4 linked regions of the Homo sapiens genome follow. The protein of the gene in region 3 interacts with the protein of the main gene of each other region in a biochemical or structural test. Each region holds a gene or a part of one and is shown on either strand. Other genes may lie near its edges. The genes, in order: ERBB2, DNM1, GRB2 and PTPN11.

What was found.
Region 1: the proteins of GRB2 (region 3) and ERBB2 form a complex in vitro, tested with the Homo sapiens proteins (4 studies listed by BioGRID and IntAct, with this or other methods).
Region 2: the proteins of GRB2 (region 3) and DNM1 form a complex in vitro, tested with the Homo sapiens proteins (5 studies listed by BioGRID and IntAct, with this or other methods).
Region 4: the proteins of GRB2 (region 3) and PTPN11 form a complex in vitro, tested with the Homo sapiens proteins (4 studies listed by BioGRID, with this or other methods).

What each region holds. Positions count from the first base shown.
Region 1 is NC_000017.11:39,717,062-39,724,092, reverse strand, and holds part of ERBB2 (receptor tyrosine-protein kinase erbB-2 isoform a precursor), read right to left. Parts: intron 7,027-7,031; coding exon of another isoform or gene 6,925-7,026; intron 6,774-6,924; coding exon 6,613-6,773; coding exon of another isoform or gene 6,609-6,612; exon of another isoform or gene 6,436-6,608; intron 4,307-6,435; coding exon 4,259-4,306; intron 775-4,258; coding exon 636-774; intron 556-635; coding exon 433-555; intron 182-432; coding exon 83-181; intron 1-82. UniProt on the Homo sapiens protein: Protein tyrosine kinase that is part of several cell surface receptor complexes, but that apparently needs a coreceptor for ligand binding. Essential component of a neuregulin-receptor complex, although neuregulins do not interact with it alone.
Region 2 is NC_000009.12:128,198,928-128,206,390, forward strand, and holds the start of DNM1 (dynamin-1), read left to right. Parts: upstream 1-4,451; 5' UTR 4,452-4,543; coding exon 4,544-4,704; intron 4,705-5,258; exon of another isoform or gene 5,259-5,295; intron 5,296-7,463. UniProt on the Homo sapiens protein: Catalyzes the hydrolysis of GTP and utilizes this energy to mediate vesicle scission and participates in many forms of endocytosis, such as clathrin-mediated endocytosis or synaptic vesicle endocytosis as well as rapid endocytosis (RE).
Region 3 is NC_000017.11:75,318,660-75,325,690, forward strand, and holds part of GRB2 (growth factor receptor-bound protein 2), read right to left. Parts: intron 3,169-7,031; coding exon 3,000-3,168; intron 1,895-2,999; coding exon 1,709-1,894; 3' UTR 1-1,708. UniProt on the Homo sapiens protein: Non-enzymatic adapter protein that plays a pivotal role in precisely regulated signaling cascades from cell surface receptors to cellular responses, including signaling transduction and gene expression.
Region 4 is NC_000012.12:112,505,920-112,510,422, reverse strand, and holds the end of PTPN11 (tyrosine-protein phosphatase non-receptor type 11), read right to left. Parts: 3' UTR 505-4,503; downstream 1-504. UniProt on the Homo sapiens protein: Acts downstream of various receptor and cytoplasmic protein tyrosine kinases to participate in the signal transduction from the cell surface to the nucleus. Positively regulates MAPK signal transduction pathway. Dephosphorylates GAB1, ARHGAP35 and EGFR.

The sequences.
Region 1 (7,031 bases), about 36 Mb from region 3:
CCAATGAAGAGAGACCAGAGCCCAGACCTGCAGCCATGGGGTCCTTCCTGTCCTCCTAGCAGGAGAGGGTGGAGGGGCTTACGTCTAAGATTTCTTTGTTGGCTTTGGGGGATGTGTTTTCCCTCAACACTTTGATGGCCACTGGAATTTTCACATTCTCCCCATCAGGGATCCAGATGCCCTGGGCAGAAAGAGGAGGATATGAGTGAGAAGAGCGTGGGCTGGATCCTACCTGCCTTCCAGGAGATCATTACTTGTCCTCCAAACATCCTTCACCACCCTAGGGCTTGGCCCCGCTCCCTTCTCCGCTGTAACTGCCCTCCCCCAAACACTGCCTCCAGCTCTTGCCCCTCCCATCAGAACTGCCGACCACACCCCTCCAGGCACCGCCCCCATCCTCTGGGGCCGCCCACCCCAGGACCTGGCCCTGACCTTGTAGACTGTGCCAAAAGCGCCAGATCCAAGCACCTTCACCTTCCTCAGCTCCGTCTCTTTCAGGATCCGCATCTGCGCCTGGTTGGGCATCGCTCCGCTAGGTGTCAGCGGCTCCACCAGCTGGGGTGAGGGGGTGGTGGGTCAGTGCCGGGGGCCGGTGCAGACCCCACGCGGGCTGGGAGGACTTCACCCCGCCTCACCTCCGTTTCCTGCAGCAGTCTCCGCATCGTGTACTTCCGGATCTTCTGCTGCCGTCGCTTGATGAGGATCCCAAAGACCACCCCCAAGACCACGACCAGCAGAATGCCAACCACCGCAGAGATGATGGACGTCAGAGGGCTGGGGGCGGAAGCCAGGGTCAGGGATTGAGGGCTAGTTTGGGGTGGGAGGGACAAAGGGGGCCCACGGGGGACATGAAGGTGTTTGGCATTCGGAAAGGGAAGTCGGAAGGGTGACCCACAGGCTTGGACCCTCTCCTACTCTAAAACCTGCCTTGGCTCCCCGCTGCCTCCACAATAAAGTCCAAACTCCTTGTAGGCAATCAGAACCCTCTCCGCATCTCCAGATTCTCTATACTCTTGCCCTTGGCTCTGGCTTAGGGCTTCAACAATTCATGGTGTAAAAATCACTAAGGACTCTGGGCGCGGTGGCTCATGCCTGGAATCCTAGCACTTTGAGAGTCTGAGGTGGGCAGATCACAAGGTCAGGAGTTCGAGACCAGCCTGGCCAACATAGTGAAACCCCCGTCTCTACTAAAAATACACACACACAAAAATTAGCTGGGCGTGGTGTGGGTGCCTGTAATCCCAGCTACTTGGGAGACTGAGGCAGGAGAATCGCTTGAACCCGGGAGACAAGAGGTTGCAGTGAGCTGAGATTGTGCCACTGCACTACGGCCAGTGCAAGACTCCATCTCAAAAAAAAAAAAGTCACTAAGGAGACTGTTAATACACATGCCCCTCAACACCAAGGGGCTACGTCCTGATAAACCAATTCTAAGTTGAAACTGAAAATGCATTTAAGACACCTAGCCTGGCTTACACGTGCTCAGAACATTTACACTGCCAGCAGCTTACAGTTGGGCAGAATCATCTGACACAAAGCCTATTTTATAGTAAACTGTTAAATAAGTTTGTGTTATTTATTTATTTATTTTTGAGACAGGGCCTTGCTGTGTTGCCCAGGCTGAGTGCAGTGGTGAGATCATGGCCCACTGCAGCCCTGACCTCTGGGCTCAAGCAGTCTTTCCACCTCAGCTGCCCAAGTAGCTGGGACTACAGACACACGCCACCACACTCAGCTAGTTTTTTTATTTTTTGTAGAAATGGGGTCTCACTATGTTGCCCAGGCTGGTCTCGAGCTTCTGGCCTCAAAGGATCCTCCCACCTTGGCCTCCTAAAGTGCTGGGATTACAGGTGTGAGCCACGGTGCCTGGCTATGTAATTTATTGAATACTGAAAGTAGGGCTGGGCATGGTGGCTTGAGGCTGAGATGGGCAGATCACCTGAGCTCTCGAGTTCGAGACCAGCCTGACTAACATGGAGAAACCCCGTCTCTACTAAAAATACAAAATTAGCCGGGTGTGGTGGTGCCTGCCTGTAATCCCAGCCACTCTGGAGGCTGAAGCAGGAGAATCGTTTGAACCTGAGAGGTGGAGGTTGCGGTGAGCCAAGACTGCGCCATTGCACTCCAGCCTGGGTAACAACAGCAAAATGACATCTCAAAATAAATAATAAATAAATAAATAAATAAAAATAAAAGTGAAAAACAGAATGGCTGTATGGGTATTCAAAGTACGGTTTATACTGAATGTATATTATTGCTTTTCCACCATTGTAAAGTCAAAAAATCCTAAGTAATATCACAAATCAGCACACAGTCTGTATGCATACAATTTTGGGGCCCCACCCCCAGAGATTCTGACTGCTGCATGGGTACAGGAATGTACACCTGATGATTTTGATGTTCTAGCCAAAATTTCCACCCACAGGTCATGATTTTCCACACCTCCCAGTGTTTGCATAGGCTGTCCCTTCAGCCTGGACCACCATTTCTCCACAGGGTCATCTTTTAAGACTCGGCTCCGCCAGGCACGATGGCTCACACCTGTAATCCCAGCACTTTGGGAGGCCGAGGCAGGTGGATCACCTGAGGTCAGCAGTTCAAGACCAGCCTGGCCAACATGGCAAAACCTCATCTCTACTAAAAATACAAAAATTAGCCGGACGTGGTAGCGCATGCCTGTAATCCCAGCTACTGGGGGGCTGAGACAGGAGGATTGCTTGAACTGCTTGAACCTGGGAGGCAGAGGTTGCAGTGAGCCAAGATCGTGTCATTGCACTCCAGCCTGGGCAACAGAGCAAGACTCCATATCAAAAAAAAAAAAAAAAAAAAAAGACTTGGCTCATCGCCAGGAGTGGTGGCTCACTCCTGTGATCCCAACATTTTGGGAGGCCAAAACTGGAGGATCACTTGAGCCCACGAGTTTGAGACCAGCTCGGGCAACATAGTGAGACCCTGTCTATACAAAAAAAATTTTTTAAATTACCCAGGCGTGGTGGCACGCTCCTATAGTCCCAGCTACTGCAGAAGGGTAACTTGAGCCCAGGAGGTCAAGGCTGCAGTGAGCCTGTGATTACACCACCACATTCAAGACTGGACAAGAGAGCAAGACCCTGTCTCAATCACTCAATAAAAAGATAGCGTATCTGGCTGGGCACGGTGGCTCATGTCTGTAATCCCAGCACTTTGGGAGGCCAAGGTGGGCGGATCTTGAGGTCAAGAGATCGAGACCATCCTGGCCAACATGGTGAAACCCCGTCTCTACTAAAAATACAAAAATTAGCTGGGTGTGGTGGCATGTGCCTGTAATCCCAGCTACTTGGGAGGCTGAGGCACAAGAAGCGCTTGAACCCAGGAGGCAGAGGTTGCAGTGAACCGAGATGGAGCCACTGCACTCCAGCCTGCAGGCAGAGTGAGACTCCGTCTCAAAAAAATAAAAAAAAGATAGTGCATCCTGGGATAGATGGAGCTCCCGGGTGTTGATCCAATATTCTTGTCACCCTCTCCTCTCCATACCCCCTTGCTTAGCACAGGGTCTGGTACATACCAAGCCTGTAACACATGCTCATTTCACGGACCGATGATCGCCTAAGACAGACTCCAGTCTGTTTTTCTCCCCAAAGTCCTTTCCAAAGGTCCCCACTGCCCAGTCAAGTCCCACCCTGTGGCTTGGGGATCAGGTCCTATGGCATCCAGGTCAGACCCCACCCTGACTCTAACTTGACCCCCTTATTCCTGTGCTTACTCAACAGCCCCCGACACCAGAACTTTGAAGACATCCTGGATTTCCTGATGCCTCCCCCTCCAGTGTCACCTTGCACCCCAATGCTTTCTACCTAAATGCAAGTGCAATACCTGCTCCTCTCTCAAAGCCTAGCTCAAATGCCACCTCCCACTCGAAGCCTCCCACCATCCCCAGTTAAGAATTCATCACTCCCTCAGTGCTGCAGCTGTACTCTTCTCAGTCTCCCTTGACTTCCAAGGAATTGAACTTTGCCTGTGTCCCTCACAAGGCATCAAGTTACTCTAGGGTGTGGAGGGACTGGGTTTCCTAGCCATCTTTCCTTGCAGTCCCCTCCCCTCAGCATCTGAGCAGGTCCTCTGTCACTTGGTGAAGTGGAAAATGACAGGAGGTTCCACAGTGGAAGAGTGGGTGGGAAGGGACATATGTCAGGGGGTCCCCTCCCTACAGCAGTGACCACCCAGCATCCAGTGGGGGAGTGAAGGGCAATGAAGGGTACATCCTGGGGTCCAGGCCAACCTGGCTCTCTGCTCGGCGGGGCAGCCCTTGTCATCCAGGTCCACACAGCTGCAGGAGAAACAGTCTCATCAACAATTCTGGGAACCACCCTCTTGGGAACCACCTTTCCAGCCTCACAACAACCCTGGGAGGGGTGTGGCTGGGTCATTATCCCCATTTGACAAAGGCAGAAACTGGGCTCAAGGCCGTCAGTGCTCCTTCTACCACCTCACAAGGAGACTCCTTCTCCAGCCAAGGAACCGGCATGCCCCGCTCCCCTGCAGCTCCTTGTGGTGGATAGGAAGCGGGGAGGGGCACCCAGAAGAGCAAGCCCGGGAGCTCAACTATTCCCTCCATAGAAGAATCCCAGGGTAAACCCATACCACTTCTCCAGAGAACGGTTTGGCAATACCTATGAAATATCATCTATGACCCAGCAGTTCCTCCTCTGAATATAGACTGTACATACTGTTTGCAAATGCTTTTTTCACTTAGCAGAATCTTGCAATGTTTTTCCATGTTCTAACACCGTGATCTGGATCTAGGATCCATATGGATCTGGACCCATATTCTTTTTTTTTTTCTTTTTTTTCTTGAGAAGGAGTTGCACTGTGTTGCCCAGGTTGGAGTGCACTGGTGCAATCTCGTCTCACTGCAACCTCCGCTGCCCAGGTTCAAGCAATTCTCCTGTCTCAACCTCTCAAATAGCTGGGATTACAGGCGCCCACCACCACGCCTGGCTAATTTTTGTATTTTTAGTAGAGACGGGGTTTTGCCATGTTGGCCAGGCTGGTCTTGAACTCCTGACCTCAGGTGATCTGCCTGCCTCGGCCTCCCAAAGTGCTGGGATTACAGGCGTGAGCCACCATGCCCAGCCTGGATCCATATTCTTTTAATTTTTCTCATTTAGTTGTCTTTAAATTGAAATGCATGAATATATCCTTGTGATAAACATTGCCAGCACTGTATTCCCACTAGGGGGCATACAAAAGAGGGCTCACTTGTGTGTGGAGCTCAATTGCAATAAACTGCAAAAACAGGGAAACAAGCTCAATATCCCTCAAAAACAAAGTGAAATTACATCCATGTTACAGGTTGAGTAATTAAAAAAAAAATAAAGGTGGTAGATCCGTCTGTACTCACAAGAAAGGATACCTCAAGTCGGGGGGAAAGCAAAGTGCAGAACAGCATCACCACACCTGGCTAGTTTTTGTATTTTTAGTAGAGACGGGGTCTCGCTATGTTGGCCAGATTGGTCTCGAACTCCTGATCTCAAGTGATCTGCCTGCCTCAGCCTCCCAAAGTGCTGGGATTACAGGTGTGAGTCACTGCGCCCAGGCTCTTGACACTTTTTGGTTTACACAAACAGCAATCTTATTTGACTCGACCTAATATAAATGTAGTATGTCTATATAAGTGTGCAGAAAAGAGCCTGGAAGGGTGAACACACAAGTCAATGCGGTGGTTCTCCCAGCAGACAGGAGAGACTGGGTGGACAGGGAGTTGAGTGAAAGGGCACGTTGGCTTTGTAACATTTATACTTTTATGTTACTGAAAATGTTTATCACAAGGATGTATTCATGTGTTTCATGTGTAAAGACAACTAAATAAGAAAAATTAAAAGAATAAGGTAGATCACCATGTTAGAACATGGAAAAACATTTCAAGGTTCTGGAAAGTGAGAAAAAGCAATTTGCAAACAATATGTATGATCTATGATTCTATTTGTTAAAAAGAAATATATGACTGGGCATGGTGGCTCACCGCTGTAATCCCAACACTTTGGGGGACCGAGGCTGGCAGATCACCTGAGGTCAGGGGTTCGAGACCAGCCTGGCCAACATGGTGAAATCCTATGTACTAAAAATACAAAAATTAGCCAGGCAAGGTAGCACGTTCCCGTAATCCCAGCTACTCAGGAGGCGGAAGCAGGAGAATTGCTTAAACCCAGGAGGTGGAGGCTGCAGTGAGCCAAGATTGTACTACTGCACTCCAGCCTGGGCGACAGAGTGAAACTCCGTCTAAAAATACATATGTGTGTGTGTGTGTGTGTGTGTGTGTGTGTTAAAATGTGCACAGATAAAAATAACTGGAGAATAATATTAATATATGTTAACTTATATATACATATTAGAATGTGCACAGACAAAAATAACTAGAGGAAAAATATTTCAAATTATTAACAGTGGGGATAGAACTGCTAGGGCATTAATTTATATTTCATGTTTTAATTTTACAATTTTAACAATGTGTTATTTTTGTCATCAGAAACAAGATATGACAAAGGGAGAGTTGGTCCCCTTTTATAGTAAGAGCCCCAGAAAGACCCCTGAAAGGAAAGTCCTCCTTTCTGCAGAAAAGACCGTTGGACTCACGAGTGGGTGCAGTTGATGGGGCAAGGCTGGCATGCGCCCTCCTCATCTGGAAACTTCCAGATGGGCATGTAGGAGAGGTCAGGTTTCACACCGCTGGGGCAGCGGGCCACGCAGAAGGGAGGGTCCTTATAGTGGGCACAGGCCACACACTGGTCAGCCTCCTGGGGGGGGCAGAAAAGATTTGTGGGGGGCTGGCACTGACACCCCCAGGGCAGTAGGATCAGGCCCTTAGTTGGGTCCCCTTTGTGCTTCCCAAGGCCACCCAGCAGCAATTTTCGCCATGCTCCTGGGACAAACACCCTTGCTCTTCACCCAGTCTCTGTGGCCCCTCCCTCGGGGCCCTCCTCCAAGCTTGATCCTGGGCAGGGACTTGAGCCAGAAAATGGGAGGCACCCAGAGAGGAAAACGCATTACCTAAG
Region 2 (7,463 bases), on a different chromosome or scaffold from region 3:
TGTAGGATGTAAATATGGAAGCTCTGAGTCACACTGACAACCGTCTACATCTTGACTCCATCATTTCTTGGCTATGTGACCTCAGACATGTTCTTTACTAACCTCTCTGTGCCTCAGTTTTCTCATCTGTCAAAGGAGGCTAATAAAACTTCTTTCTCGGCTGGGCACGGTGGCTCACGCCTGTAATCCCAGCACTTTGGGAGGCCGAGGTGAGTGGATCACCTGAGGTCAGGAGTTCAAGACCAGCCTGGCCAACATGGTGAAACCCTGTCTGTACTAAAAATACAAAAATTAGCTGGGCATAATGGTGGGCACCTGTAATCCCAGCTACTCAGGAGGCTGAAGCAGGAGAATTGCTTGAGCCCAGGAGGCAGAGGTTGCAGTAAGCAGAGATCATGCCACTGCACTCCAGCTTGGAGCTGGAACAAGACTCTGTCTCAAAAAAAAAAAATTCTGCCCAGCACAGTTGGTGGTCAAAACTTTGGGAGCTCAGCCATGTATGGTGGCTCACACCTATAGTGCCAGCACTTTGGGAGGCCAAAACAGTAGGATCACTTGAAACCAGGAGTTCAAAACCAACCTGGGCAACAAAGCAAGATCCCGTCTGTACAAAAAAAAATTGTTTTAATTAACTGGGCATGGTGGTGTGCACTTGTAGTTTCAGCTATTTGGGTGGCTGAGGCAGGAAGCCTACTTGAGCCCAGGAGTTTGAGGCTACAGGGAGCTGCGATTGTGCTACTGCACTCCAGTCTGGGCAGCTGAGCAAGGTTTATCTTATCTCTAAAAACAAACAAAAAAACAAAAACAAAAAAGCTTTGGGAGCTCAAGAGAGAGTAAAGAAGCCATTTCTTTCTTTCTTTTTTTTTTTTTTTTTGAGATGGAGTCTTGCTCTGTCACCCAGGCTGGAGTGCATGGTGTGATCTCGGCTCGATGCAACCACCACCCCTGCCTCCCAGGTTCAAGCAATTCTCCCACCTCAGCCTCTCGAGTACCTGGGATTACAGGTGCGGGCTACCATGCCCAGCTAATTTTTGTATATTTAGTAGAGATGGTGTTTCGCCATGTTGGACAGGCTGGTCTCCAACTCCTGGCCTCAAGTGATCCACCCGCCTTGGCCTCCTAAAGTGCTGGGATTACAGGTGTGGGCCACTGCACCTGGCCCTGAGATTCTTCTTTTCAACCAACTCCATGTGATGCCAGGCTGCTGGCCTGGCATCAGTGATACAGCAGTATAGGATACTTAGTATAATCCCATTTCTGTAAAAACAAAATGGAACAAAATGAATATGTGCATATATGAAAAACAAAGCCAGAGAACGATCCCTAAGCTATAGTGGTTATCTCTAGGTGGGAGGATGACCAGAGGTTTTCAAATACTTGTGTAAAGTCTGGTTTTACAATAAGTTTCAATATTGTAATTAGGGGGGAAAAAGTAAAAATAATAAAAGCTGGCTGGGCATGGTGGCTCACAGCTATAATCCCAGCATTTTGGGAGGCTGAGGCGGACAGATCATGAGGTCAGGAGTTTGAGACCAGCCTGGCCAAGATGATGAAACCCCGTCTCTACTAAAAATACAAAAATTAGCTGGGCACAGTGGCGAGCACCTGTAATCCCAGCTACTCAGGAGGCTGAGGCAGGAGAATTCCTTGAACCAGGGAGGGAGAGGTTGCAGTGAGCTGAGATCACACCACTGCACTCTAACCTGAGCGACAGAGCAAGACTCTGTCTCAAAAAAAAAAAAAGAAAGAAATACAAAAAATTAGCTGGGCGTGGTGGTGCATGCCTGTAGTCCCAGCTACTTTGGAGGCTGAGGCAGGAGAATCACCTGAACTTGGGAGGCGGAGGTTGCAGTGAGCTGAGATCACGACACTGCACTCCAGCCTGGGAGACAGAGCGAGACTACGTCTCAAATAAATAAATAAATAGGCTGGGCACAGTGGCTCATTCCCGTAATCCCAACACTTTGGGAGGCTGAGGCAGGAGGATCACAAGGTCAAGAGATCGAGACCATCCCGGCCGACATGGTGAAACCCTATCTCTACTAAAAATACAAAAATTGGCCGGGCGCAGTGGTTCACACCTGTAATCCCAGCACTTTGGGAGGCAGAGGCAGGCAGATCACAAGGTCAGGAGATGGAAACCATCCTGGCTAACACGGTGAAACCCTATCTCTACTAAAAATACAAAACATTAGCCGGGCGTGGTGGCACGAGCCTGTAGTCCCAGCTACTTGGGAGGCTGAGGCAGGAGAATTGCTTGAACCCAGGAGGTGGAGGTTGCAGTGAGCCAAGATCGCACCACTGCACTCTAGCCTGGGTAACAGAGCGAGATTCCGTCTCAAAAAACAAACAAACAAACAAAAAATACAAAAATTAGCTAGGAGTGGTGGCACGTGCCTGTAGTCCCAGCTACTCGGGAGGCTGAGGCAGGAGAATCGCTTGAACCCAGGAGGCAGAGGTTGCAGTGAGCTGAGATCATGCCACTGCACTCCAGCCTGGCGACAGAGTGAGACTCCGTCTCAAAAATAAATAAAATAAATAAGTAAATAAATAATATTAAAAGCCCAGCCATGATGCCCTCTAGGCAAACATCTATAAACTGCACCCCCTCCTGGTGCCAGTCATCCAGGCTTCCATCTCTGCCTTCTCTTGTCCTCAGAGCATAATAACAGGTTGGCATGGAACAGCTGCCAGGTTCCATGCAAGTTGTGTGGCACTGATGCTCCAGCTGTCTGGTGAGCTGTTATCATTGGCATCCTCACAGCTGCAGCTTAATAAGGGCCCCCTGAGCACTAGGCCTGGGCTGTGCCCTACACAGGCATTTGATCTATTATTATCCCCATTATCCAGATTAGTTAACTGAGGTTCAGAGACGTGGAGGGACCTGGGTCACGCAGCTTGTTTAAGGCCCAGATTAGACTCCTAATCCACTCTCTGGTGCTACCAGGGAGAGGGCCTGCTTGTTCCCCATGCCTGCCTCGAAGATTCCTCCCCACAAGGGTCACTCTCTGATCACCATCTTCACAATAGCAACACCACCCTACCCCGCCCCTGCTTTCTTGCTCTGCAGGGCACGCCATCTAACAGGGCCATCGTTATTGCCCTATTTGCATATTGTCTGTCTTTTTCCACTGAATTGTCAGCCACATGTGGGTAAGGACTTTGTCCGTTTTGCTCACTGCTTTATCTCTGGAGTCTAGCATAGTACCTGGCTCAACAAATACGCATTAAATGGATGAGTAAGTGAACAGTCTCCAATTCACAGACCACTTTGTCAGCAGTGCCCCCACACTGTTCACAGCGCAGGGAAATGACTCACCGACTCCCCATGAGCACAGTGTAGGCTAGCCTTCCCTTCCTAGCCTCCACCGTGAATACTAATTAGGTTTCTTAAATGCAGAGATGGACGGCTGGGCTCAGGGCCCCATGGTCTGTCTGTGTGAAAGGGTACGCAGGGTAGGATTGTAGGAGCCCTGGATTTGAATCCCACTGTTTTACGCTGTTTTACCACCATCCTGATGGGTTGGAGCAAAGACTTCCACTCTCTAGGACAAGAGCTTCCAACTCTCCCAAGAAGGGCCCTCCAGGTGTCAGGGCCTCTGCACTTGCTGGTCATTCAGCCTGGCATGCTCTTCCCCTGATCTGCTTGCTGCTGGCTCCTTCTCATCATTTTGGTCTCTTCTCAAATGTCACTTCTGCAGAGAACACCCCCGACTCCTGCCAAGCCAATGTGAACTTTCCACACCCACAAAGATACCTTTTTTCACCCTGTTTATTTCCTCCATCCCTCTTACTATGAATTATTTTCATTTTTACTATTTCATTTATCTGCTTACTTATTTACTGTCTGTCTCCCCAGCTTGATGCAAGATCTATGAGGGCAGAGGCCTTGGCTGTCTTATTCGTTGCTGAATCTTCAGTGCCTAGGACAGGGCCTGGCTTCTAGCAGGTACCTAGTAAATATTTGTTGAATTCATGTTCCAACTTTCTCCTTCTAGAAACAAGGAAACTGAGGACCAAAGGCAGAAGAGGACATGTTGGAGATCAGAGTCAGGATCTAGGGATAGAAGCCAGCGAGATGAAGGGGAACTCATCTCGGAGTTCTGACCTCTGAGGTCAGGAGGCTGTGACCTCAGAGGAAGCCCATCTGCTCTCCAGGCCTGTTTCCTCATCGGTAAGATGGAGTGAAACATCCAGACCACTCTCCAAGAGGCCTGGTACTAGGAGTGAGACCCAACCCATTGACAAATATATTCTGCGCAGCATCCGCGCACCCCAGACACTGCTAAAGCACCCCAAAAGCCGCAGAAGGTGAAAACTACGACACCCATGATGCCCCGGACGGCGCCTGCGCACGGCGGCCGGCCCGCAGCGCCGCGGGCTCCCCCTAGCGGCGTCCGGGAGCGGTGCTCGCTCCGATCCCCGAGGGGCGGGGGCCCCGCGGCGCAGGCAGTCTGGGCGCGCGGCTGCAGCGGCGGAGCCGGAGTCGGAGCCGGGAGCGCTAGCGGCAGCCGGATCGCAGCCTGCGGGGCCCGCCGCAGCCATGGGCAACCGCGGCATGGAAGATCTCATCCCGCTGGTCAACCGGCTGCAAGACGCCTTCTCTGCCATCGGCCAGAACGCGGACCTCGACCTGCCGCAGATCGCTGTGGTGGGCGGCCAGAGCGCCGGCAAGAGCTCGGTGCTCGAGAATTTCGTAGGCAGGTAGGCGCGGCGCGCCCCCAGGCGCCGACCCCCGACCCCCGGGATCCCTGGAGTCCCCGCCCGGGGCACTGACGGCGCGGCGACCTCGCAGCCCCCGACGCTGCACCCGCGGCCGGCGCGCCCCCCACCCCCAGCCGGAGCGAGGAGGCCCTCCCCCCACCACGAGAGCCCCTCGGGGCAGCAGCGCCCCCCGCTAGTCTGCAAACGTCGTCAAGCCTCCGGCTACCGAATCACGCCCCCTCCTCCGTCCCATCCTTTAGGGCAGACAACGCTCTGCCAGAAGCCCCGGGCAAAGAGCTGCCCCCCGCCCCCAACATGGGCATGGAGAGAGCCCGCATTACTCAGCGTCTCCGTTGGGCTCCGGGAGTCCCTTGGAGCGGGCAGCACCCGGGGGCAGCGTCCCCCACACCGGGCTCAATGGGGGACATCCCCCTACCCCCATGGGAATTCCTGGGCCGTGGCAGAGGTCAGCCCCCGCATCCCAGTCCCTAGAAGAGGACGTAGTCCCGCGGGCATCGAGGACCGGGCACGGCCTCCCGCCAGCACACACACACCTCTGCGGCTCCCGCCGCCATCCGTGCGCAGCGCGGCGAGGGGGGAGGCGCGGGCTGCAGGATGAGGAAGGGAAGAGGGGAGGAGAAACCACTTCTTATCCTTTTCTGAGCAGCCGGCCCCTTGCTTCGCCACGGCCCCTGGGTGGGGGGCGCCTGTCAGTGTCGCCCTCCCCTTGGCCTGGCCAGAGGAATCGTGTTGGAGGGAGAGGCGGCAGAGGGCAGAGATGACTAAGACAGGGATGGCGGGAGGGGGGAGCCATTTGCAGAACCTAATCCCCCTCCCGCCTCTGATCCCACAAGGCGCTGAGAGGCCTAGGTGGCGGAGAGAGGAACAACCGCAAAGACAAAGGGTCGTGGGTTTAGCGGGGCAGGCAGGGTCGTGACCCGCAGGCTCCCCACAAACCCCCAAAGGGAGGCAGAAATAGTTTTTCTGGTGCTGAGGAGAGAGAAGAAAGATAGGAGCTCTCCAGGTACTGGAGGTGGGTTGGGGGGCTGGGCAGACTGGGGGATGAAGTGAGAGAGTTTACACTGACCCCGTCTTTCATCTCCCCCCCATCTTCTTCAGAAACTCTTGCTTTCTTCCAATGACCTTCAGGGCCAAAAAAGTGACTGGCACATGGGAGAGGGAGGCAGGGGCCCTTGTCCGCAGAGGTACAGCAGTTCTGTCCAAGCCAGGTTCTGCTGCAAAACCTCAGGCAAGTCACTTGCCCTCTCTGAGCCTCAGTGTCCCCATCTCTAACATGGACAGTGGGACTGGGTGGTTGTTCCTGCCCCTCAAATGTCCTGGGAAACCCATGCCAGCCCTAGAGGTGAGAGGGAGAGGGCCTGACTGGAGCCATGTGTGTGTGGGACGTTGGAAGGCCACCGTGGGGGCGGCCGTGCCCATCTGGTCAGCAGAGGGGAAGGCATCTGTCTCTCCAATGGCTCCTGCAGAGCCCCCCTTCTGATCACATGACCCCCGGAGCTGCAGAGACACAGGCAAGAGACACACCACGGGCCCCTTCCCCAAGGGCCAGCAGTCAGGGATATCCAGCAGTTTAGAATGGAGAAACCATATTCCTACCTCTCGTCCTTTGAATGTTGGCTGAACTCCTGCCCCATGCCAGGCTGCGTGCTTCAGGCTTGGGGTAGGGAGGGGACCAACTGGTGATTTCAGCCCGCATCTACTGAGCCCATCCCATGCATCCCCCTATGCTGAGTCCTTCATAGGCTCACAGGAGCTCCCAAGAGGCAGGTACCATGATGCCCATCCTACAGATGAGGAAACTGAGACCCTGGAGGTTAGATGCCTTGCCCAAGGTCACACATTCAGAAAGGGCAGCAGCTGTTAGACTCCAAAGCCCAATTCCTAATCTCGACGCTGCACATCCTCTGACAGCCGGGTCCTGCACCAGGCACAGGGACGTGTGGGTGGGTGGGCCTCCATTTCCCCATCTGCGGAATGGAAACGCTGACAGCCGCTGCCCTGCCTTCCTGAGAAGGTGACTGTGGGCTCCACCGAGTTCATGGGTGGAAAGGTGCTTTTGTAAACATGCGGGAGGGGGCGCTGATAGCCAATTAGGCTTGGGGACCTGCATGCCCAGCCCCTGCCTTCCTGGAGCCCATGACGCAGGGGCCATCCCTGACCACAGCAGATTTCATCGAGTACTTGCTTGTTGAGTGGTGGAGCAAGGTTTGGACCGTGCCCCAGGAGGCCTGGGCCCTCTGGCTGCCCTCTCCACCCCAATGCCCTTGGCCGTTGTCCCCACAGGAGGATGTGCAGGGTGTCCAGATGCAGGCCCAGGGCAGGGGAGGGGGCTTAGGTTGATGTGAAGGAGTAGGCAGAAAAGCATTCATGATCCTCTGAAAGCTAGTGAGAAGGCCAGGGAAACTGAGGCTCAGTGGGTTCCACTGTCTCAGCCTGCCAGCTCCCTCAAGGGCTCCTGACCTCTCCAACAGGGCTCAGTCCCCAGACTGGTGAGCATAGTAACAGCCATTCTGTCTCCTGGGGCTTCCCAGGAGCCAATCCCCAACAGAAAATGCTTCACAGGAAAATGCATCAGGGCTGCCCCAGGCCCACCCGGGCTTCTGGGTGCTCAGGAGGATCCTGCTGTCAACTCTGCAATGGAGGTAGCCTTGCAGCTGCCTGGGATGCTGCTAGAACTTGTCTGGGTCTATACTATTTCTTCACCCCCTTCCCTTTTACAGAAGGGAAAACTGAGGCCA
Region 3 (7,031 bases):
CCATCGGTAGGGGTGGGGAGCAGCAGTCAACACAGCCCACTGGGAAGGGAGGCACAAGCAGCACTCCAGCTTCCCAGTGCTGCCCTCACACTCACCTGGACAGGTCAGGGGACACAGGATGAAAGCCATGGCCCAATCTAAGAGCAAGACAAGTGAAAAGTGAGTACTCTCACTGTGTACCCCAGCATAGGAATAGTGAAACCTGCTACAACTGGAGGCTGCGTTCCCATGACTTCCTCCTCCGCTCTCCTTGTCTGGGACTTGCTGGTTCCAGGGGTGCATATAGGGAGGGGGCGGGGGCCACAACCCCCGAGACGGTGAGGACAGGCTTCCGACCCCCCTGTAAGCCAGATCCAGTGGGATGTGGGAGAGCTGGGCGGTCACCTTCCCTCTTGCCCCGGTGGCCCATCACACTCACACTGCACCCTGGGCAAGCAGTTCCCTGAACCCCCAAGGGGCTCACAACCCTTAAAGCTGGAGCTTAAAGCCTCCTGGCTTAGTACAAGCAGGAGAACGCCTCACCTTCCACTCCTGCTTTGTCTCCTTTGCTCTACCCTGGCTCCCCTGCCCGGAGGGAAAAATATTTACACAGAGTAGGAGACAAATTGGCTGAAAAGCTCTGGACTGCCTTTAACTTATTTTAAAACAAAACAAATTAAAAAAAAAAAAAAAACACCACTCAGAAGCAACCCTTGAAATAAGGAAAAAGGCACTATGAAAAAACAACATGCTCGATAATCCCACTGGAAGGGCCAACAAAGTGGAAAGAGACAGGCTTTCAGGTGGGCTTTTTTTTTTTTTTTTTGAGACGGAATCTCGCTCTGTCACCCAGGCTGGAGTACAATGGCACGGTCCCGGCTCACTCAACCTCCACTTCCCAGGTTCAAGCGATTCTCCTGCCTCAGGCTCCCAAGTAGCTGGGACTACAGGTGCGTGCCACACCCGGCTAATTTCTTATTTTTAGTAGAGACGGGGTTTCACCATGTTGGCTAGGTTGGTCTCGAACTCCTGACCTTGTGATCCGCCCACCTTGGCCTCCCAAAGTGCTGGGATTACAGGCGTGAGCCACCGCGCCCAGCCCAGGTGGGCTTTCTCAGGAAGCCATGGAAGCAGAGACATGCTTTCCTTCTACCCTACTCTACTGTGAACTTGGACAAAATACACTGGGGGTCTGGGCTGGAAGGCAGATTCCTACAAGTCCCCTCCTCTGGAGGAAGCTAAACAGCAAAGGCATCGAGCGGCCCTGCCCGCTCCTTTTTGTGTGTATATACGAAGAACACAGGAACAGCTGTTCTTCTTTCAGTCATTCCAACTAAAACAGACATTTTGCATAGAGAGAATACCAGCCCACTTGGTTTCTTGTTTTTTATTATTGGCGTCAGCTAGGACTATACGTGGCCTTAAACGTCATGCACTGATGGACAGAAGAGAAAAAAGGATGAAAAAAAAGACAAAGGAGGGGAAAGAGGAGCAGCAGTGAAAATTTGTAATAAAAACTCTTCTTAATTTATAGGTAAGTTTTGGCATTTTTAAATCCAACGCCCCCTCCCACCCCCTAAAGTTCCAACCAAAGTGAGAGGGTCACAGGGTGACCCGGCCAGGTGTTCTGCACTCCCTCACAGGCTGCTGTCAGAGGCAGCTTGTGGGTTTAATTCTTTTGTATGTGTTTTACATTTTTCACTTTCTTTAAATAATTGCTTCTTGACTCTTAGACGTTCCGGTTCACGGGGGTGACATAATTGCGGGGAAACATGCCGGTCTGCCCGTGGCAAGCTCCTTTCCACCAGTTGGGGTCTGAGTTATCCATGACATGGATAAAATCTCCCCGGCGGAAGCCCAGCTCTCCATCCTCCTGGGGATCAAAGTCAAAGAGGGCCTGGACGTATGTCGGCTGCTGCAAAACAGGAGCAGGAAAAACCCACATTGCATTCCTGGTCTGTGACTGGCCACCTCCGAGGCCAGATGGGTTCCAGGGGGAAACGAATGCGTGCCAAATTCTCCATGTTTCTTAAACTCACCTCCCATCTCCCAACCCCCCGTTTATTCTTACCTATTCTAAGTTTACAGGCCAAGCGGGTTTAGTGTGATATTTCCCAGTGCTCAGAAAATATTAGAGTATGTCTCCCAGAGGAGGGTGGCCAACTGTGCCGTATTATCAAGTAGAGGGCAGGCAGTGCTTGGAGGAGAAAGTTCTTCAGAAACAGCCATCTGTGTTTAGGCCGTGGGCCCAGAATCGCAAATCCCTTCTACGACACCCTTAAGGTATTAAAGCCTAAAGTTCTGGAGCTCGAATAACATAAGGGGCTCTAACCGTAACTTACGACCAGGGCTCGAGGGACAGGAACGGGTGCCGACCCCATTCCCTCACAAGCATAGTTTTCCTCATAATTTGCTTCCAGGGACAGGATCTTTGGGTGGGTGTGTTAAAGACCATCTCCCTAGAGAGGCTGGCAAGCTGGCTACACACTGCCTCTGGAAAAGCAAAAACCTTGTATTTGAAACAACAAATCTTTTTTTTTTTTTTTTTTTTTTTTTGAAATGAAGTCTCCCTCTGTCGCCCAGGTTGGAGTGCAGTGGTGCAATCTCAGCTCACTACAATCTCCACCTCCTGGGTTCAAGCAATTTTTCCATCTCAGCTTCCCGAGTAGCTGGGACTGCAGGTGTGCGCCACCACATCCAGCTAATTTTTGTATTTTTAGTAGCGACAGGGTTTCACCATGTTGGCCAGGCTAGTCTCAAACACCTGACCTCAAGAGATCTGCCTGCCTCGGCCTCCCAAAGTGCTGGGATTATAGGTGTGAGCTACTATGCTGGGCCAGAAAAAAGAACTCTTTAGTGTGAATGGAGGGTAACATTTTCAGTAAGGAGCACAGAAGCCCCAGCGGCAATCCCTGAAGGGCGCCCGCATGTTGAGGGGCGCCTCCCCTTTCCTACAGGAATGCACACTGAGGAGCTATTCTTAACTAAAAATGATCCCATCTCACCCTGATGAGGCTTACCTGTGGCACCTGTTCTATGTCCCGCAGGAATATCTGCTGGTTTCTGGAGACAGATGTAGATCTGTGATAATCCACCAGCTCATTCAAAGAATTGAACTTCACCACCCAGAGGAAGTACTTCCCGGCTCCATCTCGGAGCACCTTGAAGTGCTGCACATCGTTTCCAAACCTGGGAGGGACAGAAAGCACATGTGACCGGCTAAAGGCTCTAACTTGGCAAATCGAGGGTATTTCCATATAGGAGCTATCTCGAGAGAACCACTGTCCCAGCAGCACTCCTCAGGGACTGCAGAGCAACAAGTTTCCTCACTGGGTGTCCCTGGGACGGACCTCTCCCTATGAATGATGGGCACCAGGACAACATCCAGAAACCAGAGAGGGACAGGCCATCAGTCATTCTCATTCTGAAGATGTTTGTAAGATAAAGAGTCCAGGCCGGGTGCGGTGGCTCACACCTGTAATCCCAACACTTTGGAGGCCGTGGTGGGCAGATCACCTGAGGTCGGGAGTTCGAGACCAGCCTGGCCAACATGGAGAAATCCCATCTCTACTAAAAATACAAAAGTAGCTGGGCATGATGGTGCATGCCTGTAATCCCAGCTACTCGGGAGGCTGAGGCAGGAGAATCACTTGAACCTGGGAGGCCGAGGTTGTGGTGAGCTGAGATCGCGCCATTGCACTCCAACCTGGGTAACAAGAGTGAAACTCTGTCTCAAAAAAAAAAAAAAAAAGAGTCCATGTGCCCTGAACCCTACCAAATAAAAACAGCCGTACTTAAGACAAAGGAGTGTGACTTAACATCCTTTGAATAAAAAAATAATTAAAATCTTATATGCAGGAAGAAGGTGAGGAGGGCTGGAAATACTTTCAACAATTCTCTCGTAACTGGGAATAGTTCAAAGTAATGTTTTCCATTCAGGAATTTTAGCTCCACTCATGGGGAAAAGGTCTCTGAACAAAAGGACGTACTGGGACAATAAAAGAGGCCCAGACTTCAAAACCCAAAAGCTTCTCCATCACTAGATCACACCCTTTTATACTGGCAAGCAAAACCGGCAACAGCGTGGCTGGCTGGTACTAGCTCACAGGGTCTGTCACAGGATATTTGGCTAAAACACCAGCCTAGCGAGGGCGCTTCTGCCTGTCCTGTTCACCTGGCCGGGCACTCTCGGCATTCTCGGCCGGATGCGGTGGCTCATGCCTGTAATCCCAGCACTTTGGGAGGCCGAGGTGGGCGGATCATAAGGTCAGGATATCGAGACCACCATGGCTAACACAGTGAAACCCCGTCTCTACTAAAAATACAAAAAATTAGCCAGGTGTGGTGGCAGATGCCTGTAGTCACAGCTACTCGGGAGGCTGAGGCAGGAGAATGGTGTGAACCCGGGAGGAGGAGCTTGCAGTGAGCCGAGATTGGGCCACTGTACTCCAGCCTGTGCGACAGAGTGACACTCCATCTCATTAAAAAAAAAAAAAAAAAAAAAGGCATTCTCTGAGAGTGCTTGTTCAATGAATGAATGAGTCCCTCCTCTCCTTCAGTCTTTCAGCTGATGGAAACCAAAGGCTTCAGAAAATCAATCCGGCAGGTGGCAGCACTGAGCCTCAAGGAAGCCACTCAGCACAAGATGCCTCGCATTTGGAAAAAATACTGCTTTACATGTTAAGACAAAATGTGGAAGGTGAGAAAGCTTCATTAGCAAGGGTATATTCCACGGCACTTCTGGCCCCACAGAGGCCCACTTCCACCCATGCAATGCAGGTGGTTTCTAAGAGCCCAGGGCCCCAATAATGAGCAGTGTTTCAAATCACAGGCTCAAAACATCCTAAAACTAAGAAACATCTGACAACTGTTGATTCTTGAACCTTTTTTGCAGAGGTGTGTGTGTTGTTAAAGAGAGTCATGACACCTGCTTTGCTTCTAAAACAATAAATGCATTAAATCCTTAAAAGATTCTACTTGAGAAAATGGAAGTTTGAGAGTTTCTGCTGAGCAAACAGGCAGCGTCCAGCCGAGCACGTGGCTGCCCCCGTGGTTTTGGCCACCACCCAGTGATTTACTGCTTGTTCCCCTCATCTTATAAGGTTTCAGTTACACTTGGGTCAGTATAAAACTAAAGAAAGACAGGTGTCACACATGTTTTTCTTTTCTTTTTTTTTTTTTTTTAAAGATGGATGGAGTCTTGCTCTTTCACCCAGGCTGGAATGCAATGGCTCAGTCTCGGCTCACTGCAACCTCTGCCTCCTAGGTTCAAGTGATTCTCCTGCTTCAGCCTCCGGAGTAGCTGGGAATACAGGCATGTGCCACCACGCCTGGCTAATTTTTGTATTTTTTTAGTAGGGACAGTGTTTCACCATATTGGTCAGGCTGGTCTCAAACTCCTGACCTCATGATCGGCCCGCCTCAGCCTCCTAAAGGGCTGGGATTACAGGCATGAGCCACCATGCCGGGCCACAACTATAAATTTAAAATCTACGTTTCAAAAAAAAAATCTACATTTTAATCACACATTAAGTGGTTCTAAAACCAAATAAGATATTCAGTTTGTTTGTTTGTTTTGGGAGACACAGTCTTACTCTGTCACTCAGGCTGGAGTGTAGTGGCACGATCTTGGCTCATCTGCCTCTCGGGTTCAAGTGATTCTTCTCTCTCAGCCTCCTGAGTAGCTGGGATTACAGGCACACGCCACCACGCCGAGGCCATTTTTGTATTTTTTTTTTTTTTTTTTTTTTTAGTAGAGACAGGGTTTTACCATGTTCGCCAGGCTGGTCTCGAACTTCTGACCTCAGGTGATCTGCCTGCCTCGGCCTCCCAAAGTGCTGGGATTACAGGTGTGAGCCACCGCACCCAGTTTTTTTTTTTTTTTTTTTTTTTTTTTTGGAGACAGAGTTTTGCTCTTCGCCCAGGCTAAAGTGCAATGGCGCCATCTCGCCTCACTACAACCTCCGCCTCCTGGATTCAAATGATTCTCTGGCCTCAGCCTCCCAAGTAGCTGGGACTACAGGTGTGTGCCACTATGCCTGGGTTATTTTCTATTTTTAGCAGAAACAGGGTTTCACCATGTTGGCCAGGCTGGTCAGTTCATTTTTGAAATGGAAAAGTCTCACGCTTTACATCAGTTATAAATGGGAAATGGTGGCTGGAAGCAGTGGCTCCAGCCTGTAATCCCAGCACTTTGGGAGGTCGAGGTGGGTGGATCACCTGAGGTCAGGAGTTCAAGACCAGCCTGGCCAATATGGCAAAACCCCATCTCTACTAAAAATACAAAAATAAGCCGGGCGTGGTGTCAGGCACCTGTAATCCCAGGTACTCGGAGGGTGGGGCAGGGAGAACTGCTTGAACCTGGGAGGTGGAGGTTGCAGTGAGCTGAGGCATGCCATTGGACTCCAGCCTGGGGGACAGAGCGAGACTCTGTCTCAAAAATAAGTAAATAAAATAAAAGGAAAATGGTTTTCTATCCCCCATTCAAAAACAAAACAATCTTAATGTAATCTAAACTAAGTAGTGATCTGAGTGTTGAATCTAATTACTTCTTTATATATAACTGATGAAGTGATCTGCCGGACTCCTGGGGAGGGTCCTATGATAATACATTAACTAGAAAATAACTGAAAGTAAAAAACATGGAAATAACAATTTAATTCAAAATCCCGACTTCACAGCTGAGGTGTGAATTGTTTAGAATCTTCAAGTGCTGGTTTCTATTCTCCACACTCTCCATGGCGGCAGAACTTCCTGTCTTCTCCATTCCCTGCTTACCCGCTCCCTTTCACACCTGAACTTTCCACCGGGGAAATGCAAGCCCCACATCCCCTGCAGCAGCCTTCTTAAGTGACTGTGAGGGCCTAGGATGGGGCTGGTTGATTTAAGTCAGTGGACCTGAGCAAGGCAAGCCAAGGCAGCCGACAGGCGCTCCACTATCCCATTAGAGAGAGCTGCGGGAATCCCTTGGAGGGCAGAAGCTCAGGAGTGCTGGGCACTAGGGAAAACTGGCAGGCTCCAGCTGGCTGCAGGGAGCTGCTGCTCACCTCCTG
Region 4 (4,503 bases), on a different chromosome or scaffold from region 3:
CAGTTCTGTGTGTTTTCTAACAATTTCCTCTGTGTGTGTGTGTGTGTGTGTGTGTGTGTATGTGTGTGTGCGCGCGCGTGCGCGCACATATATATTTTTGGGGGGCATGCAGTGAGAGTAGGTGAGAAAGGGTCTCACTATGTTACCCAGACTGGTCTAAAACTCCTGGGCTCCTGGGTTCAAGGAATCCTCCCGTCTCAGCCTCCAAGTAGCTGAGATTACAGGGGCGCGCCACCATGCCCAGCATTTCTTCTATAGTTTACACAGACTATACTTTTTACTCTTGAGTTACTCATATGTTCTCCCAGATAGAACTCCCTATCTCCTAAAGCTATTTCTACAGGAAACACTCAATGAATTCTTCAGGAACTCATGCCTTTATTCTATGTTCCAAGTCACTTCTAGATAAGAGCTGCTAAATGTCAGTATTTTGCCAGTGTGAGAGGTGGAGTGACCAATAATCCCATTTTTTTCCTGGACATTTCTGATGAAGCAAACGACAAATGCCATCATATAAGAAAATGGTTTTATTCCTAATTTTTAGTTCCCATACAGTTTACAAATACACTTTTACTCTGATAATACAGCTTTGCAACTAGCAAAGCAGTTGCGCTAACACCCATAAATATAGGTGGGGAGACAATTAACATCCACTAATGTTTCTCTACATAAACTATTCTTTTAATGTCATTTTTTTAAGAACAGTTGCAAATAGACTACATAATATACGTGGGCAAAAAGGCAATTAAGTGAATCTCTTGAAACACTAAATGTATAATAAACAGCATATTATCAACATTTACATGATTCACATCAAAATGATGACATCCTAAAACGTATTCCTTTTAAAGGATAGATTTATCAATAAAATATTACATATCTTTTAATACTCTGGTACAATACTTCATATACTGCAGGAAAATTAATTGTAGGTCTAGTCATCAGCTTAATCAGGGATCCTTTTCCCATTAGCTTTTATTAATAAAAGAATCACAATTAGGTCATAAATAAACAGGCAAATTATTAATTACATGATTTGAGGCTTAGGATGAAAACTTGTCAAAATTAGTTTGATATACAGCAAAGTTATACAACACACTAAAACCAACTGTTCAATAGTTTTTGCCTTGTGTGAACTGCCCATAGTGAAAAAGGAACAAATTTTTAGTGATGAAAGATACAATAAACTATATTTTGGAACTTTTCAAGAGGAAGAAGGAAAAAAGATTTCAACAAAATTAAGGGCAAATACAGATCCTAACAAAGGCATCCTGACATCAGGGAGGCCATGTGCTTGCTATGTGTGAAAGTTGATCCCCCAACAACATACAGAAAACAAAAGCTGCACTGGCTTTGTAGTTATGTCTATAGTCTAAGTTTCCCTTATGGATACTAAGCTACAACAAAACACTTGACAATTGCAAACCTTTCCACATCCCCCTGAATTAAAAATAACTCAAGATGTTATTAGTTCTTAAAATCCCCAATAAAATAACCTCTAAAAATAATCTTGACCATTTTCCTGGCTGTTTCCCCGAAGCAACTTGGCTCTTTAAAGAATGCACACACACCAAGAAAGTCCTACCCGTGTCTCCTCATCCCCATTTAGCCACATTTGAAAAGACCTTGGTTTCAGTGGGAGAGATGACCATAAGTTTCAGAAGGGCCACACACTGGACATGAAGCGCCTTTTAGTTTTTTTTAAAAAAAGTTATTAAGACTGTGAAATTTGGCTTTTTTTTTAAACTCCAATACCTAATGTGCCAGATAATTCTTTCACCCCAAAATATAAAATCCTATGCTTATAATTTTAAAATCCTCAGTGAGCTATGGAATATTGTGCATATTTAATACCCACCAGCAACCTAGAAGTAGATGGCATCCATGTGTCTGTCACACCGACTTTCCAAACAACCTCATTCACCCATTACTGACTGCTCTGGCCCTGGGCGCTCTGACTTCCTCAGAAACCACCTCTTTGGAACTTTCCTTTCCACAACTTTTTTTTTAAAACTTCACCTCGAGCTTTCTCCATCATCCCAGCCTCTCTGCCTGATTCCATCTCATGTAAAGTAAACTCGTCTGAGAACCTGCGATCACCTTTTACCAAGCACATGATAAGCCGTAGCAACCTAGGGACTATGATAACTCTGGCCTTGGCCTAAGTTTACATAAGAACATGATAGTTTGCTGACCTCGTGGAGGGAAATCTAAATGAAATCAATATCTTATAACAAAACTAGCCAAGATCAGGTATTTCCATTCTGAGTATAAAAGCAACTGATCTTAAGCAACAGGCAGAGATGTTAATGCAGAAGATATATTTGTACAATCAAACTCTTGTGTGCTGGTGAAAGACTTTACCCCCAAAGTCAAGTCAAGTCAAGACAAAACCAAAGCAAAATGGAGAATGAGTCGATGTAACAATGCGATAAAAAGAACAGCATTCAAGCTTCTTGCTGCAAATACTGAACTGGAATCTTTTTCTTTACAAGTTTGACTAGAAGACAGCAGTGACACTTCCCTAATAAGGGAATACCTTCAGGCCACACCTGTGTTCTGAAGCAATTCAAAGTTCAAGGAATATTGGGGGGTGGAGGTGGGGGCTGATATACATTTTGTCAGTGAGAATGGCAGCCAAACTACCCCAAAGTCTCAAGGGACTGAGAGACCTCAGAAAGGAACTACCACCAGGGCTGGATCTAGGCCTTCCTTTCAGAAGCCAAAGTCAGAAGAATCCAAGGAGGCCACAACTTCATGGCAAAGATGCCATAGCATTATTACCATCACAAAAGTCAACCAATGATATTTTCATTGAAATATCCGCACTGGATGATTCAACATATGAGGCAAAGAGGGATGTCTTTGGAGAAGGCACTTAATGTAGAACATTAGCAAATCTTACTGGTTGGCTACAACAAAAATGAGCTCATTCAACCTGGCTGGAGGCCTGTTAGGGCTGTTCCTTCTCACTGTGGCCTGACTAAAACCCAGTGGCATTAAGAAAGAGTCACGTTTCCCAAGTCTGGGGATGCCCCAGTGGGGTGGTGCTGCTCTCAAAAGCCCTGTGTCCCTAAACACATCCATCCTCACAAGATCAGTTTCCCCAAGTGCTGGTTCCAAAAATAGGCTCAGGGCTAGCAGAAATCATTCAGGAAGCTTCTTGAAGGCCCTCTCTTTATTTCTTAGTCTGACTTTCAGCTTGTCCCAGCTACTGTAAGCAGCTTCGGCTTCCCAAGGTCACTAGCAACTTCTGCTTTTGCTAATATCCTTGGTTTTCCATGGCACTGGTTGTGACCGTCTGTTAGACTAGTGGCCCCCCACTTAACTGCACCTCTACTTCACACCCTTTTCTTGAATCTGAGCTGGGCTTGTGACTTGTTTAGTAAGTAGAGGGCATACCCCAGCTTTCTTCTGATTAGAAAAAACCATCATCATCATCATCATCATCATCATCATCATCATCATCATCATCAATAGAGGGAAGTAGAAGGGACACTGTGACAATTCTGGACTTAAGTTTTCAGAAGGCCTGGCCATTTCTGCTTTTGAGCTCTTGGGAGCTCTGAGCTGCATGTGAGAGGTCTAGCTACCCTGCCAGCCAGGCCACTGAAAGAGACTACACGAAGAAGGAGAGACTCAGGACTGCAGGCAGAGAGAGAAGCCCAGCCATCCCAGTCTCTCCGCCGACCTGCTGACCACATGAGTGGCCACCTGCAGGCTGGCAGAAGAACAGCCCAGCTGAGCCCAGCTCAGATTGACTAACAGTTGGGGGCAGGTTTTTTTAAGCCACTAAAGTTTTGGGATAAGTTTGTCAGCAACATTTGGCGACCAAAAACACTGGTCATTCATAGACGCCTTTTTTCTAAGTACAAGACAATTATTCAAATGCAAAGAAAATATGGCAAACGTTTTCCCACCACAAACTTCTCAGTCAACAGCCGAACTATAATTGGTCAACGGCTGGAAAAAAGAAAAAAAAAAAAGCCACACCTCTTACCTTAATTCATAAATATCCATGATTCTTTTTCTATGACTCTTTAATGCCAGTGCAAAGGTCAACTTCTGACAGTCTCAGGCACTGGCTTAATTCTCATTTGGCCAAAAATAGAAGCCATCAAAATGAATTATCCACTACTGGATACATGATGGTAAATGAGATTGTTCTCACTTTTCTAGGTCGTTGTTACTTAATTTTCCCAAATCATTTCTTCTCATCATCCCCAACAATGAGGAAAAAAAAAATTAAACTGGTTAAGGGTATAAAAATAAAAATAAAAAAGCCTATTACTAGAATTTGAATCCCCATAATCTGCAAAATACAGCGCACAATTTAACTGCTTCCTCAATTTCAAACAAATTCTATAAAATATAATGTTGTCTACATTGTAGAGATGATTTCTTCTTATCTGAGGAAATGAGTAATTGGGAAGCAGGTATTGTTGAGTTAAAATACAGTGGTCTTTAAATGGTTTCAAATTTTGCTTATCAAAAGGTAGTCAA